Linked DNA regions of Homo sapiens: region 2 is linked to region 1. A link means that fine-mapping ties the variant in region 1 to the expression of a gene that starts in the linked region. Tissue or cell type: tibial nerve. Region 1 holds a variant in brackets; the other region holds the start of a gene. All regions are shown on one strand. Distances are between the middles of the regions.

What was found. PIP is the estimated chance that this variant, and not a neighbour inherited with it, causes the effect.
Region 2: it holds the start of TRPV1, and the variant in region 1 is fine-mapped to the expression of TRPV1 in tibial nerve (GTEx, PIP 0.95).

The regions. Positions count from the first base shown.
Region 1 is chr17:3,170,271-3,178,372 of GRCh38, reverse strand. It overlaps LOC100288728 (a long non-coding RNA gene), which reads left to right and starts at 1,438. Exons shown (of 4, transcript NR_147912.1): 1 at 1,438-1,497. The variant G/A (reference allele first, on the strand shown) is at 4,998.
Region 2 is chr17:3,605,686-3,613,774 of GRCh38, reverse strand. TRPV1 (transient receptor potential cation channel subfamily V member 1) reads left to right here and starts at 4,364. Exons shown (of 17, transcript NM_080704.4): 1 at 4,364-4,466; 2 at 5,210-5,348. SHPK (sedoheptulokinase) reads left to right here. Exons shown (of 7, transcript NM_013276.4): 7 at 2,803-5,535. The coding sequence ends at 3,215. RefSeq lists an enhancer at 3,973-4,474.

The DNA of each region.
Region 1 (8,102 bases):
GCAGGCCTGGTGGTGACAAAATCTCTCAGCATTTGCTTGTCTGTAAAGGATTTTTTTTCTCCTTCACTTATGAAGCTTAGTTTGGCTGGATATGAAATTCTGGGTTGAAAATTCTTGTCTTTAAGAATGTTGAATATTGGCCCCCACTGTCTTCTGGCTTGTAGGGTTTCTGCCGAGAGATCAGCTGTTAGTCTGATGGGCTTCCCTTTGAGGGGTAACCCGACCTTTCTCTCTGGCTGCCCTTAACATTTTTTCCTTCATTTCAACTTTGGTGAATCTGACAATTACGTGTCTTGGAGTTGCTCTTCTCAAGGAGTATCTTTGTGGTGTTCTCTGTATTTCCTGAATCTGAACGTTGGCCTGCCTTGCTAGATTGGGGAAGTTCTCCTGGATAATATCCTGCAGAGTGTTTTCCAACTTGGTTCCATTCTCCCCATCACTTTCAGGTACACCAATCAGACGTAAATTTGGTCTTTTCACATAGTCCCATATTTCTTGGAGGCTTTGCTCATTTCTTTTTATTCTTTTTTCTCTAAACTTCCCTTCTGGCTTCATTTCATTCATTTCATCTTCCATCGCTGATACCCTTTCTTCCAGTTGATCGCATCGGCTCCTGAGGCTTCTGCATTCTTCACGTAGTTCTCGAGCCTTGGTTTTCAGCTCCATCAGCTCCTTTAAGCACTTCTCTGTATTGGTTATTCTAGTTATATATTCTTCTAAATTTTTTTCAAAGTTTTCAACTTCTTTGCCTTTGGTTTGAAAGTCCTCCCGTAGCTCAGAGTAATTTGATCATCTGAAGCCTTCTTCTCTCAGCTCGTCAAAGTCATTCTCCATCCAGCTTTGTTCCGTTGCTGGTGAGGAACTGCATTCCTTTGGAGGAGGAGAGGTGCTCTGCGTTTTAGAGTTTCCAGTTTTTCTGTTCTGTTTTTTCCCCATCTTTGTGGTTTTATCTACTTTTGGTCTTTGATGATGGTGATGTACAGATGGGTTTTTGGTGTAGATGTCCTTTCTGTTTGTTAGTTTTCCTTCTAACAGACAGGACCCTGAGCTGCAGGTCTGTTGGAGTACCCTGCCTTGTGAGGTGTCAGTGTGCCCCTGCTGGGGGGTGCCTCCCAGTTAGGCTGCTCGGGGGTCAGGGGTCAGGGACCCACTTGAGGAGGCAGTCTGCCGGTTCTCAGATCTCCAGCTGCGTGCTGGGAGAACCACTGCTCTCTTCAAAGCTGTCAGACAGGGACATTTAAGTCTGCAGAGGTTACTGCTGTCTCTTTGTTTGTCTGTGCCCTGCCCCCAGAGGTGGAGCCTACAGTTGCAGGCAGGCCTCCTTGAGCTGTGGTGGGCTCCACCCAGTTGGAGCTTCCCGGCTGCTTTGTTTACCTAAGCAAGCCTGGGCAATGGTGGGCGCCCCTCCCCCAGCCTCGCAGCCGCCTTGCAGTTTGATCTCAGACTGCTGTGCTAGCCATCAGCGAGACTCCGTGGGCGTAGGACCCTCCGAGCCAGGTGTGGGATATAGTCTCGTGGTGCGCCGGTTTTTAAGCTGGTCTGAAAAGCGCAATATTCAGGTGGGAGTGACCCGATTTTCCAGGTGCGTCCGTCACCCCTTTCTTTGACTCGGAAAGGGAACTCCCTGACCCCTTGCGCTTACCAGGTGAGGCAATGCCTCGCCCTGCTTCGGCTTGCGCACGGTGCGCGCACCCACTGGCCTGCGCCCACTGTCTGGCACTCCCTAGTGAGATGAACCCGGTACCTCAGATGGAAATGCAGAAATCACCCGTCTTCTGCGTCGCTCACGCTGGGAGCTGTAGACCGGAGCTGTTCCTATTCGGCCTTGTTGGCTCCTCCCCCTGTTTTCCCTTACTTCTGACTCCTCTTCTTCTCCCCTTTGCTAGAAGGATGCGCATTGGAATTAGGGGTGCTGTGGAAGGCAATCGAGTTCATTTTTCTTGTTTTTTTTTGTTTTGTTGTGTTTTGAGATGGAGTCTCACTCTTGTTGCCCAGGCAGGAATGCAGTGGTGCCATCTCGGCTCACTGCAGCCTCCGCCTCCCAGGTTCAAGGGATTCTCCTGCCTCAGCCTCCCATGTAGCTGGGACTACAGGCACCCGCCATCATGCTTGGCTAATTTTTGTATTTTTTAGTAGAGGTGGGGTTTCACTATGTTGGCCAGGCTGGTCTCCAACTCCTGACCTCAGGTGTCTGTCCACCTCAGCCTCCCAAAGTGCTGGTAGAGGCTGTTTTGCCTGTTTAGGGCTTTCAGTGATAGGGAGCCCCCCACAGTAAAGCGACCCACCCCACTTTGGATTGGGTTCCCATTTTACCTTGTGATGCTGTAGCCTGGGCATTTTTTAGTACTAACCAGTTGGGGCTCACTGGACATTCAGGAGCATATTAATTTCCATATATTTGTATATTTTCCAAAAATTTCTCTCATTATTGATTTCTAGTTTTATTCCATTGTGGTCAGAGAAGATACTTGATATTATTTGAGTTTTTTTGAATGTGTTAAGACTTGTTTTGTGACCTAACATATGGTTTATCCTTGAGAATGATTCATGTGCTAAGGAGAGGAATGTGAATTCAGCAGCCATTGGAGCAAATGTTCTATAAATATCAATTAGATCCATGTAGGTCTATAGTGCAGATTAAGTCTGAAGTTTCTTTGTTGACTTTCTTTCTGGAAGATCTGTCCAATGCTAGTGGGCTGTTGAAGTCTCCAGTATTATTGCATTGGGGTTTATCTCTCTCTTTAGCTCTAATAATGTTGCTTTATATATCTAGGTGCTCCAATGTTGGGTGCATACATATTTAAAATTGTTATATCCTTTTGCTGAATTGATCCCTTTATCATTATATAATGACCTTCTTTGTCTCTTTTTATAGTTTTTGCTTGAAATTTATTTCGTCTAATATAAATATACCCACTCCTACTCTTTTTCCACCCCTTTATTTTCAGTCTCTGTGTACCTTTATAGATGAAGCGTGTTTCTTGTAGGCAACAGATCACTGGGTCCTGCTTTTTTTCAGTCAGCCACTCTATGTTTTTGATTGGATAGTTTAGTCCATTTACATTCAGTGTTATTATTGATGAGTAAGGACTTACCACTGCCATTTTATTATTTGTTTTATAGTTGTTGTGTGGTCTTACTTTCCTTCCTATCTTTTCCTTTTTTTTTTTTTTTTTTTTTTTTGAGATGGAGTCTTGCTCTGTCGCCAGGCTAGAGTGCAGTGGCACGATCTCGGCTCACTGCAATCTCTGTTTCCCAGGTTCAAGTGATTCTCCTGCCTCAGCCTCCCAAGTAGCTGGGATTACAGGTGCCCGCCACCATGCCTGGCTAATTTTTGTATTTTTAGTAGAGATGGAGTTTCACCATGTTGGCCAGGATGGTCTCGATCTCCTGACCTCGTGATCCACCCACCTCGGCCTCCCAAAGTGCTGGGATTACAGGCATGAGCCACTGCGCCTGGCCCTCCTTCCTTTTTTTTATTTTAGTGAAGGTGATTTCCTCTGATAGTATGTTTTAATTTCTTGCTTTTTATTTTTTTGTGTATCCATTGTATGTTTTTGGATTTGAGGTTATCATGAGGTTTGCAAATAATGTGTTATAACCTATTATTTTAAACTGATGGCAACTTAACATGATTGCATAAACAAACAAGCAAAAAGAAAATGAATAAAAACTTTACACTTTAACTTCATCCCTCCACCTCTCTAATTTTTTGATGTTTCTATTTATATCTTATTGTACTATCTGTGTCTTAAAAAGTTGTTTTGGTAATTATTTTTGATTGGTTCTTCTTTAAGTCTTTCTAATTAAGATCAGAAGAATTTACACACCACAATTAATATTCTATGTACTTACCATTAGCACTGAGTTTTGTGCCTTCAGCTGATTTCTTATTGCTCGTTAACATCTTTGTCTTTCAGATCGGAGACCATCCTTTAGGATTTCTTGTAGAACAGGTCTAGTGTTAATGAAATCCCTCAGCAAGCTGTTTCTCTGGGAAGGTTTTTACTTCTCCTTAGTATTTGAAGGATATTTCCACCAGATACACTCTTCTAGGGTAAACTTTGTTTTTTCCTTCAGTGCTTTAAATATATCATGCTACTCTCTCCTACCCTTTTCTCCACTGAAAAGTCTGCAGCCAGATATATTGGAGCTTCATTGTATGTTATTTTTTTCTTTTCTCTTGCTCCTTTTGGGATCCTTTCTTTATCTTTGATCTTTGGAAGTTTGATTATTAAATAACTTGAGGTAGTCTTTTTTGGGTTAAATCTGCTTGCTTTTCTACAACCTTCTTGTATATTGATATCTTTCTCTAGGTTTAGGATATTCTCTGCTATTATCCCTTTGAATAAACTTTCTATCATTATCTCTTTACCTCCTCTTTAAGGCCAATCACTCTTAGATTTGCCTTTTTGAGACTATTTTCTAGATCCTGTGGGTATGCTTCATTCTTTTTTATTCTTTTTTTTTTTTTGCCTCCTTTGTGTATTTTCAAATACCCTGTCTTCCAGCTTACTATTTCTTTCTCCTGCTTGATCATTTTTTCTATTAAGAGACTCTGCTGTATTCTTTTGCAGGTCAATTGCATTTTTCAGCTTCAGAATTGCTACTTGATTCTTTTTATCCATTTGAATTTCTTTGTTAAATTTATCTGATAGTATTCTGAGTTCCTTCTCAGTGTTATCTTGAATTTCTTTGAGTTTCCTCAAAACAACTATTTTGAATTCTCTCTCTGAAAGTTCACATATCTCTGTTTCTCCAGGAGTGGTTCCTCTTACCTTATGTAGTTCATTTGGTGAGGCCGTGTTTTCCTGGATTGTCTTGATGCTTGTGGAAGTTTTTCAGTGGCTGAGGATTGAAGGGTTAGATATTTATTGTAGTCTTGCCAGTCTGGACTTGTTTGTACCTGTCCTCTTGGAAATGCTTTCTAGGTATTTGAAGGGACTTGGGTGTTGTGATCTACATTTTTTTTTGTCACTGCAGCCATATCTGCATTA[G/A]GGTGCACCTCAAGCTCAGTAATGCTGTGGTTTTTGCCAACTTGTAGAGGTACCTACCTCCTTGGTGGTCTTGGATAAGGTCCAGAAGGATTATCTGGAGTACCAGGCAGAAACTTTTGATCTCTTCCCTTACTTTTTCCAAAACAAATGGAATCTCTCTCTCCCCTTCTCTGTGCTGAGCTTCCTGGAAGCTTCCTGAGCTTCCTGGGGGAGGGGTAACACAAGTACTCCTGTGGCCACCACCACTAGGGCTGTGCTGGGTCAGACCTGAAGACAGCACAGCACTGGGTATCATCCAAGACCCACTGTTACCACTCCTTGGCTACCACTTGTGTTTGCTCAAGGCCCTAGGGCTCTACAGTCAGCAGGTGGTAAAGACAACCAGGCTTGTCTTCTTCACTTTGGACTGCCAAGTCACCCAGGCCCTGGGTGAGTCCAGAGATGCCATCTGGGAGCCAGGGCCTATAGTTGGAAGCCTTAGAAATCTACCTGGTGCTCAATTTACTGCATCTGAAGATGACACCCAAACCACAAGAAAAAGGCCTTCCCACTCTTCCCCCACCTTTCCTCAGACAGAGGAGTCTCTCCCCATGTCCACCACCACCACAGGCCCATAAGAAATACTGACAGGTGTATTAGGCTGTTCTTGCATTTCTATAAACAAATACCTGAGATTGGATAATTTAAAAGAAAAGAGGTTTAATTGGCTCATGGTTCTGCAGCCTATACAGGAAGCATAACACTGGCATCTGCCTCTGGGGAGGCCTCAGATAGCTTTTACTCATGGTGGAAGTTTGAGGCACTTTACATGGTGAGAATGGGAGCAATAGAGAGAGAGGTGGGGAAGGGGCGTGCTTCACACTTAATCATATTTTGCAAGAACTCACTTATTATCACAAGAAAGCACCAAGCTATGGAGAATCTCCACCCATGACCCAAACACCTCCCATCAGGCCCCATCTGCAACACTGGAAATTATAATTCAACATGAGATTTGGGCAAGGACAAATATCCAAACTATATAATACCATTTCTGGTCCCCCACAAATCTCATGTACTTCTCACATTGCAAAACACAATCATGCTTTCTCAACAGTCCCCCAAAGTCTTAACTTGTTCCAAAAGTTCAATTTCTCATCCAAGACAAGGCAAATCCCTTCCACCTGAGTTTATAAAATCAAAAACAAGTTATGGACTTCCAAGATACAATGGGGCTATAGGCATTGGTTAAACATTCTCATTGCAAAAGGGAGAAATTGGCCAAAAGAAAGGAGCTGTAGGTTCCACTCAAGCTTGAAACCCAGCAGGGCAGTCATTAAATCTCAAAGCTCCAAAATAATCTTTGACTCCGTGTCCTACATCCTGGGCACACTGATATGAGGAATGGCCTCCCAAGGCTTTGGGCAGCTCTACCACTGTGGCTTTCCAGGGTTCAGCCCCTGTGGCTTCTCTCATGGCCTGGAGTTGAGTACCTGTGGCTTTTCCAGGTATAGGGTGCAAGCTGCCAGTGGATCTACCATTCTAGGGTCTGCAGGGTGGTGGCCCTTTTTCCACAGCTCCATTAAGCTGTGCCCCAGTGGGCACACTTTGTATGGGTCCTCCAATCCCCCATTTCCTCTCCTTACTGCCCTGTGAGGGCTCTGCCTCTGCAGCAGACTTCTGCCTGGATGTCAGGCTTTCCCATACATCCTCTGGCATCTAGGTGAAGGCTGCCAAGCCTCCTTCACTCTTGCTGTGCCCCTGCAAGCTTAACACCACATGGAAGCCACTAAGACTTATGGCTTACATTCTCCAAAGTGGCAGCATGAGCTGTACCTGGGCTCCTTTGAATCACAGCTGGAGCTGGAGTGGCTGGGATATGGGAACAGTGTCCCAAGGCTACACAGGGCAGCAGAACCCTGAGCCTGGCCCAAGAAACCATTCTTCCCTCCTAGGCCTCTGGATCCATGATGGGAGGGGCTGCCATGAAGGTCTCTGAAATGCTTTCAAGGACTTTTTCACATTGTCTTGGATAGTAGCACTTGCCTTCCCTTTAGTTATGCAAGTATCTCTAGCAAGTGGTTGCTCTACAGCCTGCTTGAATTCCTCTCCATAAAAAGTTCTTTCTTTCTTTGCCACATAGCCAGGCTCCACATTTTTCAAACTTTTACATTCTGCTTCCTGTTTAAATATAAATTCCAACCTTAAGTTATTTCTTTGCTCCTGCATCTGAGTGTGGGCTGTTAGAAGCTGCCAGGCAATTTCTTCAATGTTTTGCTGCTTAGAAATTTCTTCTGCCAAATATCTTAAGTCATCATTCTCAAGTTCGACCTTCCACAGATCCCTAGAGCATGAACACAATGCACCCCAGCTCTTTGCTAAGGCATAAACTGGGTGACCTTTGCTCCAGTTTCTAGTAAGTTCCTCATTTACATCTGAATCCTCATCAGCCTGGACTTCACTGTCCATATTACCATCAGTATTTTGGTTACAACGATTTAGCCAGTCTTTAAGAAGTTCGAAACTTTTCCACATTTTTCTGTCTTCTTCTGAGCCCTTCAAACTCTTCCATCCTCTGCCCATTACCCAGTTCTAAAGTCACTTCCACATTTTCAGATGTAGCCATTTTCAGGTATCTTTATAGAAATTCCCCTCTTCTCAATACCAATTTTCCATGTTAGGCTGCTCTTGCATTGCTATAAAGAAATATCCAAGACTGGGTAATTTATAAGAAAAGAGGTTTAATAGGCTTACAGTTCTGCAGGCTGTACATCAGCATCTGCTTCCGGGAAGGCCTCAGGGAACTTTTCCTCTGGCAGAAGGGTGCAGACACTTCACATGGCAAAAGTGGGAGAGAAAGACAGTTGTTATGGGAGGTGCTACACACGTAAACAACTAGATCTCTCAAGAACTCGCTCATGATCACGAGGCGTGCACCAAACCGTAAGGAATCTGCCTTCCTGACCCAAGCACCTCCCACCAGGCCCTATCTCCAACACTGGAGATTACAATTCAACATGAGATTTGGGCAGGGATAAATATCCAAACTATGTCAGCAGGCTACTGCCGGTGTTCGCTTAAGGCCCCAGGGCTCTTCAATCAGCCTCATGGTGAATGCTGCCAGGC
Region 2 (8,089 bases), 440 kb before region 1:
TCCAGCTTGGGCAACATAGCAAGACCCTGTCTGTAAAAAAAAAAGAAAACTTTTTTTCCTGAACTTTTACTAAAGAAAGATAAGCACATGATTTAAAAAATAAAATAGCCAGGCGCGGTGGCTCATGCCTGTAATCCCAGCACTTTGGGAGGCTGAGGCGGGCGGATCACCTGAGGTCAGGAGTTCGAGACCAGCCTGGCCAATATAGTGAAACCCTGTCTCTACTAAAAATACAAAAGTTAGCCAGGTGTGGTGGCACACGCTTGTAATTCCAGCTACTCGGGAGGCTGAGGCAGGAGAGTCACTTGAACCCGAGATGCAGAGGTTGCAGTGAGCTGAAATAATACCACTGCACCTGTGCATTTGCAGAGGTTAAACATTCCCATGGCGTGACTCCTCAGTGACTCTCTAGATTGGTGGGTCTTGGCACTGACCACACCCTGGAAATACTGTGGAGTTTAAAAACATCGTTGCATCCTGGTCCCACGCCCAGAAATGCTGATTTATTGGACCTGGGGTGTGGGCCTTGAGCATGAGTTTTATAAAAGTTCCTCAGGTGATTCTGAGGCCTGAAGTGTTAATAAGCACTGCTCTAGAACTGTCTCCTCAGAAAGCCTGGTCTACTGGCCTGGAGTACAGTTTCCTCTGGGAGCTTTTAACAAATGCAGAATGTTAGGGTCAGCCCTAGGCAATCTGAGTCCAAGCTATGTGTTAAAAAGATCCCTGGCTGGGCGTGGTGGCTCACACCTGTAATCCCAGCACTTTGGGAGGCCGAGGTGGGCGGATCACGAAGTCAGGAGTTCCAGACCAGCCTGGCCAATATGGTGAAACACCGTCTCTACTAAAAATACAAAAATTAGCCTGGAGTGGTGGCATGCACCTGTAGTCCCAGCTACTCGGGAGGCTGAGGCAGAAGAATTGCTTGAACCTGGGAGGCAGAGGTTGCAGTGAGCCGAGATCGCGCCACTGCACTCCAGCCTGTGTGACAGAGCAAGACTCCGTCTCAAAAAAAAAAAAAAAAGATCCCTGAGTGACTCATCTGTATGTTCAGGTTGGAGAAGCCCTAGGCTGGAGAAGCCCTAGGTCTAGGTCGGGGGCTCCCCAGCGTGGCTGTGTATAAGAATCAACTGCAAGTGTTTACAAATTCCAGCCCGCAGCCTGCAACCCACACCAGTTAAATCAGAAAGTCTGGAGATGGGGCCCACAGTGCTCTCAAGAAACCCTGATGTTGATAACTTTCTTCTTATCAAGGTGATGTTTGCTTTCCCTCAGGTCATGCGAGGTTATAGATCAAAAGTGATTCTAAGGTCAAAGTGTATCGAAACCAAAGGCTTTTTTTTTTTTTTTTTAAGACTGAGTCTCGCACTGTCACCCAGACTGGAGTGCAGTGGCACCATCTCAGCTCACTGCAAGCTCTGCCTTCTGGGTTCAAGCGTTTCTCATGCCTCAGCATCCCAAGTAGCTGGGACTACAGGCACACACTGCCATACCTGGCTAATTTTTGTATTTTTAGTAGAGACAGGGTTTTACCATGTTGTCCAGGCTGGTCTGGAACTCCTGACTTCAAGTGATCCGCCTGTCTTGACCTCCCAAAGTGCTGGGATTACAGCGTAAGCCACCGCGCTTGGCCTTTTTTTTTTTTTCGTTTGTTTGTTTTAAGAATGCAGAGCTGGCGGGGCATGGTGGCTCATGCCTGTAACCCCAGTACTTTGGAAGGCTGAGGCAGGTAGATCACTTGAGGTCGAGAGCTTGAGACCAGCCTGTCCAATGTAGTAAAACCTTGTCTCTACTAAAAATACCACAATTAGCCAGGTGTGGTGGTGTGGGCCTGTAATCCCAGCTACCTGGGAGGCTGAGGCAGGAGAATCGCTGGAACCCGGGAGGCAGAGGTTATAGTGAGCCGATAGGATATGTGCCACTGCACTCCAGCCTGGGTGACACAGCGAGCCTCAGAAAAAAAAAAAAAAAAAAAAAAACCCGCAGAGCTAACGTGGTGTCAGGGAGAAAAGTCCGATCGGGATTCTGGCTTGACACTGAAAAGCAAGTTGTAGGATGGTCAACTCATCCTTCTTCCTTGGATTTCAGGTGCCCTGTGCACATAACGAGGGTGGCCCATTCAGTGATTGGTCCTGGATCCTGGGATTTCTGATGCTGCTAACGACCCCAATGACATCCATGATGATAGTTTTGTTTGTTTGTTTGTTTTAGATGGAGTCTTGCTCTTGTTGCCCAGGCTGGAGTGCAGTGGTGCAAGCTCCGCTCACTGCAACCTCTGCCTCCCAGGTTCAAGTGATTCTCCTGCCTCAGCCTCCTGAGTAGCTGGGATTACAGGTGCCTGCCACCACGCCCGGTTAATTTTTGTACTTTTAGTAGAGACAGGGTTTCACCACGTTGGCCAGGCTGGTCTTGAACTCCTGACCTCAGGTGATCTGCCCGCCTTGGCCTCCCAAAGTGCTGGGATTACAGGCGTGAGCCACCACGCCCAGCCAATGATAGTTATTAGTCTGTATATGCATTTGGTCCCCTTGGTTAAGAAGCCTGTGTTAGGGGTAGGGCTCATGGCAGCACTTAATGAGACCTCACCCTGATGTCTGGCTGGGGTCTGCACTGAGACAGCGGGCGGGGATCCAGGGCAGAGTGTAGCTAGCCTGGCTATAGCAGTCCCTGAGCCCAGAACCACCAGCTGCAGCGGGAGGAGAAGCAGCAAGTAGCGCTGTTCCCACCCTGTGGGAATTCTCTGCCATGTCAGCCTGCACTGAGGGGGACGCATGAGCTTACACAGATCTTCTCTGTCTCTGGCAGGCCTGGAGGTTGAAGAATCCACTGTGTATTCACGCATGATTCAGGCAGCTGTGCAGCAGAGAGATACCCACCTGACCATCACCCCGACAGTGCTGGGGGAGAGGCACCTGCCGGACCAGCTGGCCTCAGTGACCAGAATCTCCTCCTCCGACCTCTCCCTGGGGCACGTGACCCGGGCTCTGTGCCGAGGCATTGTTCAGAACCTGCACTCCATGCTTCCGATTCAGCAGCTCCAGGAGTGGGGCGTGGAGAGGGTGATGGGCAGTGGGAGTGCGCTGTCCAGGAATGACGTGCTGAAGCAGGAGGTGCAGAGGGCTTTCCCTTTGCCCATGTCCTTTGGGCAGGATGTGGATGCAGCTGTCGGGGCAGCTCTGGTCATGCTCCGGAGACACCTCAACCAGAAGGAATCTTAGACAGCAAACTCTTTCGCCAAACGACTGCTGTGAATTTTACCTGATTAACATTCCTGACACCATCTGTGGGTCATCCTTTCCCTGGACCGTTCAGTGGACAGCTTTCAAGCAGTGCTTGTTGTGAGGTCCCATCTCGGCCAAGAACTTACCTTCAGAACATACTCTAATAATGCAGCCAGGAGCCGTCAGCCAGATCCCAAATGAGTGCCTTCCGAAATTGACCCACCTGGGAGCTATTTACAAATGTCCATGTGGGAGAGAGAGAGCATGAGAGCACAGTAGCCCAGCCTGCTGGTCAGCAGGCTCATCTGTGGTTCACCTGTAGACAGAGAGCAGATCAATGTGTACTTCAGACACCAGAAAGTCTGGTGGCTTTGGTCCCAAGTGGGAAAAGAGAACTGCCCCATGCCCAGCTTGTGATTATCGTTTTTGGAGACCTGAAGCCCACACTCGGGTCGTATGGACTTCTGGAAAAGTTCTTGTCTCCTGGACTGAACCATGTGACCGGAGGCCCCTTTCCTAGTCTCATCCTCCCCTGGCTGCAGATGCTTAGCTGGGCCAGGGATTGACCCAAGCGCGATGCAGCAGGCAGGCTCAGAAGACGATGCGGGGCTGTGTGCCGGCCTTCTTGCTGCATGTACTCAGCCTCAGGAGAGCTTGCTGCACCCAGGCCGCCCAGGTCTTCACAGCACAACTGCCTGGAAGGCAGGTTGCGAGAAGGAGAGGCGGATGGCATGAGCAGCAAGGGGGACCGATGCTGTGCAGCTCACACCACTCCAGAACCTGACAAGGCACCAGCAGGACCCCTTGCCAGGAGCATGTCTGTGCAGCAGTGTTTTTGCCCCTGCACATTCCAGAAGCCCTCATGGGAAGGGATGCAGCCAGGCAGACTCCTGCCAGATGGGGCAGGTAGTTTATTCAAAGAGAACTCTGTATCCCATAGGCCCAGGCTCTCCTTTCGCTTGGCGTGGGCTTTGCTGGCCCAGTGTGTGCTCCTGGCTCAGCAGAAACATCCATTTGAGTTGGCATCCCTGTAGGGATCCCAGAGCGTTGTAAGCCTTCTTGTGATTGGTAGGGATGGCTGTGGGGTGGCTTCCAGGAGGGGGCCACCATTGCCGCATCTACTTCTAGACTCCCAAAGGAGCCCAGGCTCAGGCAGGCCTGGCCCAGAGTCACGCTGGCAACCACGAGTTTGGGAAGCAGTCGTATTCTCTCTCTCTCTCTCTCTCTCTCTCTCAGTATCCATGACAGGTATGAAACATATTGTCTCTTTATAAATGTCATTTTACAAATTATGTGATTATCTGGAAGCTCTAAGATGAGAGCAAATGCCTGATCACTCTGGCCAAATGTCAGATACTAAAGCCCATTCTTGGCCGGGCATGTTGGCTCCCGCCTGTAATCCCAGCACTTTGGGAAGCCCAAGTGGGTGAATCACCTGAGGTCAGGAGTTCAAGACCAGCCTGACCAACATGGGGATACCCCGTCTCTACTAAAAATACAAGCCGGGCGTGGTGGCGCATGCCTGTAATCCCAGCTACTCAGGAGGCTGAGGCAGGAAAATCACTTGAACTCGGGAGGCAGAGGTTGCAGTGAGCTGAGATCGCGCCATTGCACTCCAGCCTGGGTGACAGAGCAAGACTCTGTCTCATAAATAAATACAAAGCCCATTCTTCCAGAGTCTTGTGCCTTAAATAAAACACACCTCTCTGCTGTGGGAAGACTGTGCAATGGCACAGCCGCAGAGCTTGGTTTGGGAGGTTGAAGTGCTCTGGGGAGAATTCGTAGATCATCCTCAGAAAAGCCTTGCCCTGGTGTTCTACCAGAAAAACGTCTCCCAATCACCCAGGAAAGCTGTCCACAGTAGTCCCCCCTTATCCACGGTGTCACTTTCCATGGGTTCAGTTATCTGCGGTCAACCACGGTCTGACAATATTAAATGGAAAATTCTTCAAACAGTTCCCAAGTTTTCCCTTGTGCATTGTTCTGAGCAGTGTGATGGAGAGTCTCTGCCGTGCCATCTGGGATGCAAACCGTCCCTGTGTTCCCCACGTCCAGGCCGTAGATGCTCCCCGCCGGTCAGTCACTTAGTCGTCAGATCGCCCGTCCTGGTATCACAGTGCTTCTGTTCAGGTCAGTCTTTTTTTACTTCATTAGGGCCCCAAAGCACCAGAGTAGTGATGCTGGTAGTGATGCTGGCTGTTCGGATATGCCAAAGAGAAACCGTAAGGTGCTTCCTTTAAGTGAAAAGATGGGAAGAAAACAGTCATATGCTGAATCTTCTATCTGTGAAATTCTAAAGAAAAAGAAATTCGTGCTAGTTTTTTTTGCCTTTTTTTTTTTTTTTTTGAGACATAGTCTCACTGTGTCACCCAGGCTGGAGTACAGTGGTGCAATCTTGGCTCACTGCAACCTCTGCCTCCCGGGTTCAAGCGATTCTCTTGCCTCACCCTTCTGAGTAGCTGAGATTACAGGCTCCTGCCACCACGCCTGGCTAATTTAGTTTTAGTAGAGATGGAGTTTCATCATGTTGGCCAGGCTGGTCTCGAACTCCTGACCTCAGGTGATCCACTTACCTTGGCCTCCCAAAGTACTAGGATTGCAGGCGGGAGCCACTGACCCCAGCCTCATGCCAGTTTTGCTGTCACACCTCAAACTGCAAAAGTATGGTCACAGTGTGTGATAACTTTTATTAGAGTGTATTGTTAAAACCGTTCTACTTTGGCTGGGTGTGGGGGCTCACACCTGTAATCCCAGCACTTTGGGAGGCCGAGGCGGGTGGATCACCTGACATCAGGAGTTTGAAACCAACCTGGCCAACGTGGTGAAAACTCGTCTCTACTAGAAATACAAAAGTTAGCTGGGCATGATGGCACGCGCCTGTAATCCCAGCTACTTAGGAGGCTGAGGCAGGAGAATCGCTTGAGCTCTGGAAGCAGAGGTTGCAGTGAGCTGAGATCGCACCACTGCACTCTAGCCTGGGTGACAGAGCGAGACTCTGCCTCAAAAAAAAAAAAAAAATTGTTCTACTTTATTGTTGTTGTTAATCTCTTACTGTGCCTAATTTGTAAATTAAATTATATTACAGATATGTATGTGTAGAAAAAACATGGCATATGCAGGATCCAATACTAGCCTTGGTTTCAGGCATCTATGCAGGGTCTTGGGACATATCTCCTGTGGATGACAGGGGGCTACTGTATTTTTTTTTTCTTTTAGGCAGAGTCTCCCTCTGTCGCCCAGGCTGGAGTGCAGTGGTGCGATCTCAGCCCACTGCAACCTCCACCTCCCGGGTTCAAGCAATTCTTGTACCTCAGCCTCCCGAGTAGCTGAGATTACAGGCATGTGCTACCACACCTGGCTAATTTTTGTATTTTTAGTAGAGATGGGGTTTCACCATGTTGGCCTGGTCTTGAACTCCTGACCTCAGGTGATCCACCTGCCTCAGCCTCCCAAAGTGCTGGGATTACAGGCGTTAGCCACCATGCCTGGCCTGCTACTGTAATTTTTCTTTCAGCCAAATGAGTTTAAGATGCTGTCATTGCAGCCCTGAGGAAGGCTGCATGAGAGAGAAGAGTAGGCTGAGTTTACCAGCGTCCTTTGTCTTTTGGGAGGAGCCAGGCCGTCTAATCTCAGAGTGGCAGCCTGTCTCGCCTGCCCAGCATGCAGTGGATGGGGTCTGCAAATGTAAGGTTAGGAACGGGATGGACATCCAGCAAGCTCAGGCAGCCCAGCCTTGTGCCTGGTGTGGCCCCGGAACTCTCTGTCCTCTTTCCAGACTATGCATTCACTCTGCCTCTGAGGACTGAGCCTTGGAGGGTCCCAGTTTGTCAATAAACAGGGCTGCTCCTGCTGCTTCCGTTGCCTGAGGCCTGGAGCCTCCGTCTAGGTGGGGGATGAGTGCAGCTGCCTGAAGTCACAACCACGTGCACAACCCACCCTCCTTCCCAGGAGGTGCCAGTAAGTGGTTTGAGGCCGGCATGCTTCTGAAGAAGTGGTGAGCGGGGCTCCTTTGCTGGCCGTCAGTATCCCGATGCTATGAGCCCACGGCAGGGCTGCACCTTCCCCCCGATCCGCTTCGGCCAGTGGGACGTGCACAGGGAATGCCTGTCACTCCTGGGCAGAGGTCTTTAGGAGCCAGTGAGCTACTTGCCACACACCCTTCCCTTTGCCACAAGTGACTGGCAGTGCCCCAGAGAGTGGTAGCTCTGTCAGCCTGGGTCCCTGAGTGAGGACAGTGTGGTGTAGAGTTCTCACCAACCAGCGAGGGACGTGCAGTGGGACAGAGAAGTAAGCGCCCTTTGGTGCAGTGCCTCACACCTGTAAACCCAGCACTTCGGGAGGCCGAGGAGGGCGGATCACTTGAGGTCAGGAGTTCCGAGACCGGCCTGGCCAACATGGTGAAACCCCGTCTCTACTAAAAATACAAAAAAATTAGCCGGGCATGGTGGTCGGCACCTGTAATCTCAGCTACTTGGGAGGCTGAGGCAGGAGAATCGCTTGAGCCTGGAAGGCGGAGGTTGCAGTGAGCTGAGATCATGCCACTGTACTCCAGTCTGGGAGACAGAGCGAGATTCTGTCTTTAAAATAAATAAATAAATAAATAAATAATAAACCTTTGATGTTTGAAGCCACTGAGATTTGGGGGTTGTCACCACAGCAGAGCAGCCTCAGTAGCCTGCACCTGGGACGTCTCCCATGCACCCAGCACAGACCCAGGCAGCCACATTTTCTGAGCGCCCAGTAGTAGCTGGGTGTTCTCTCAGAGACTGCCCCCCGTTGAATTTCCATCACGAGGCAATGGAAAAATACCAACAGTTGGTTACATAAACAGACCCTAGGAAAAGAAAAAGACACAGACAATGACAGCACCT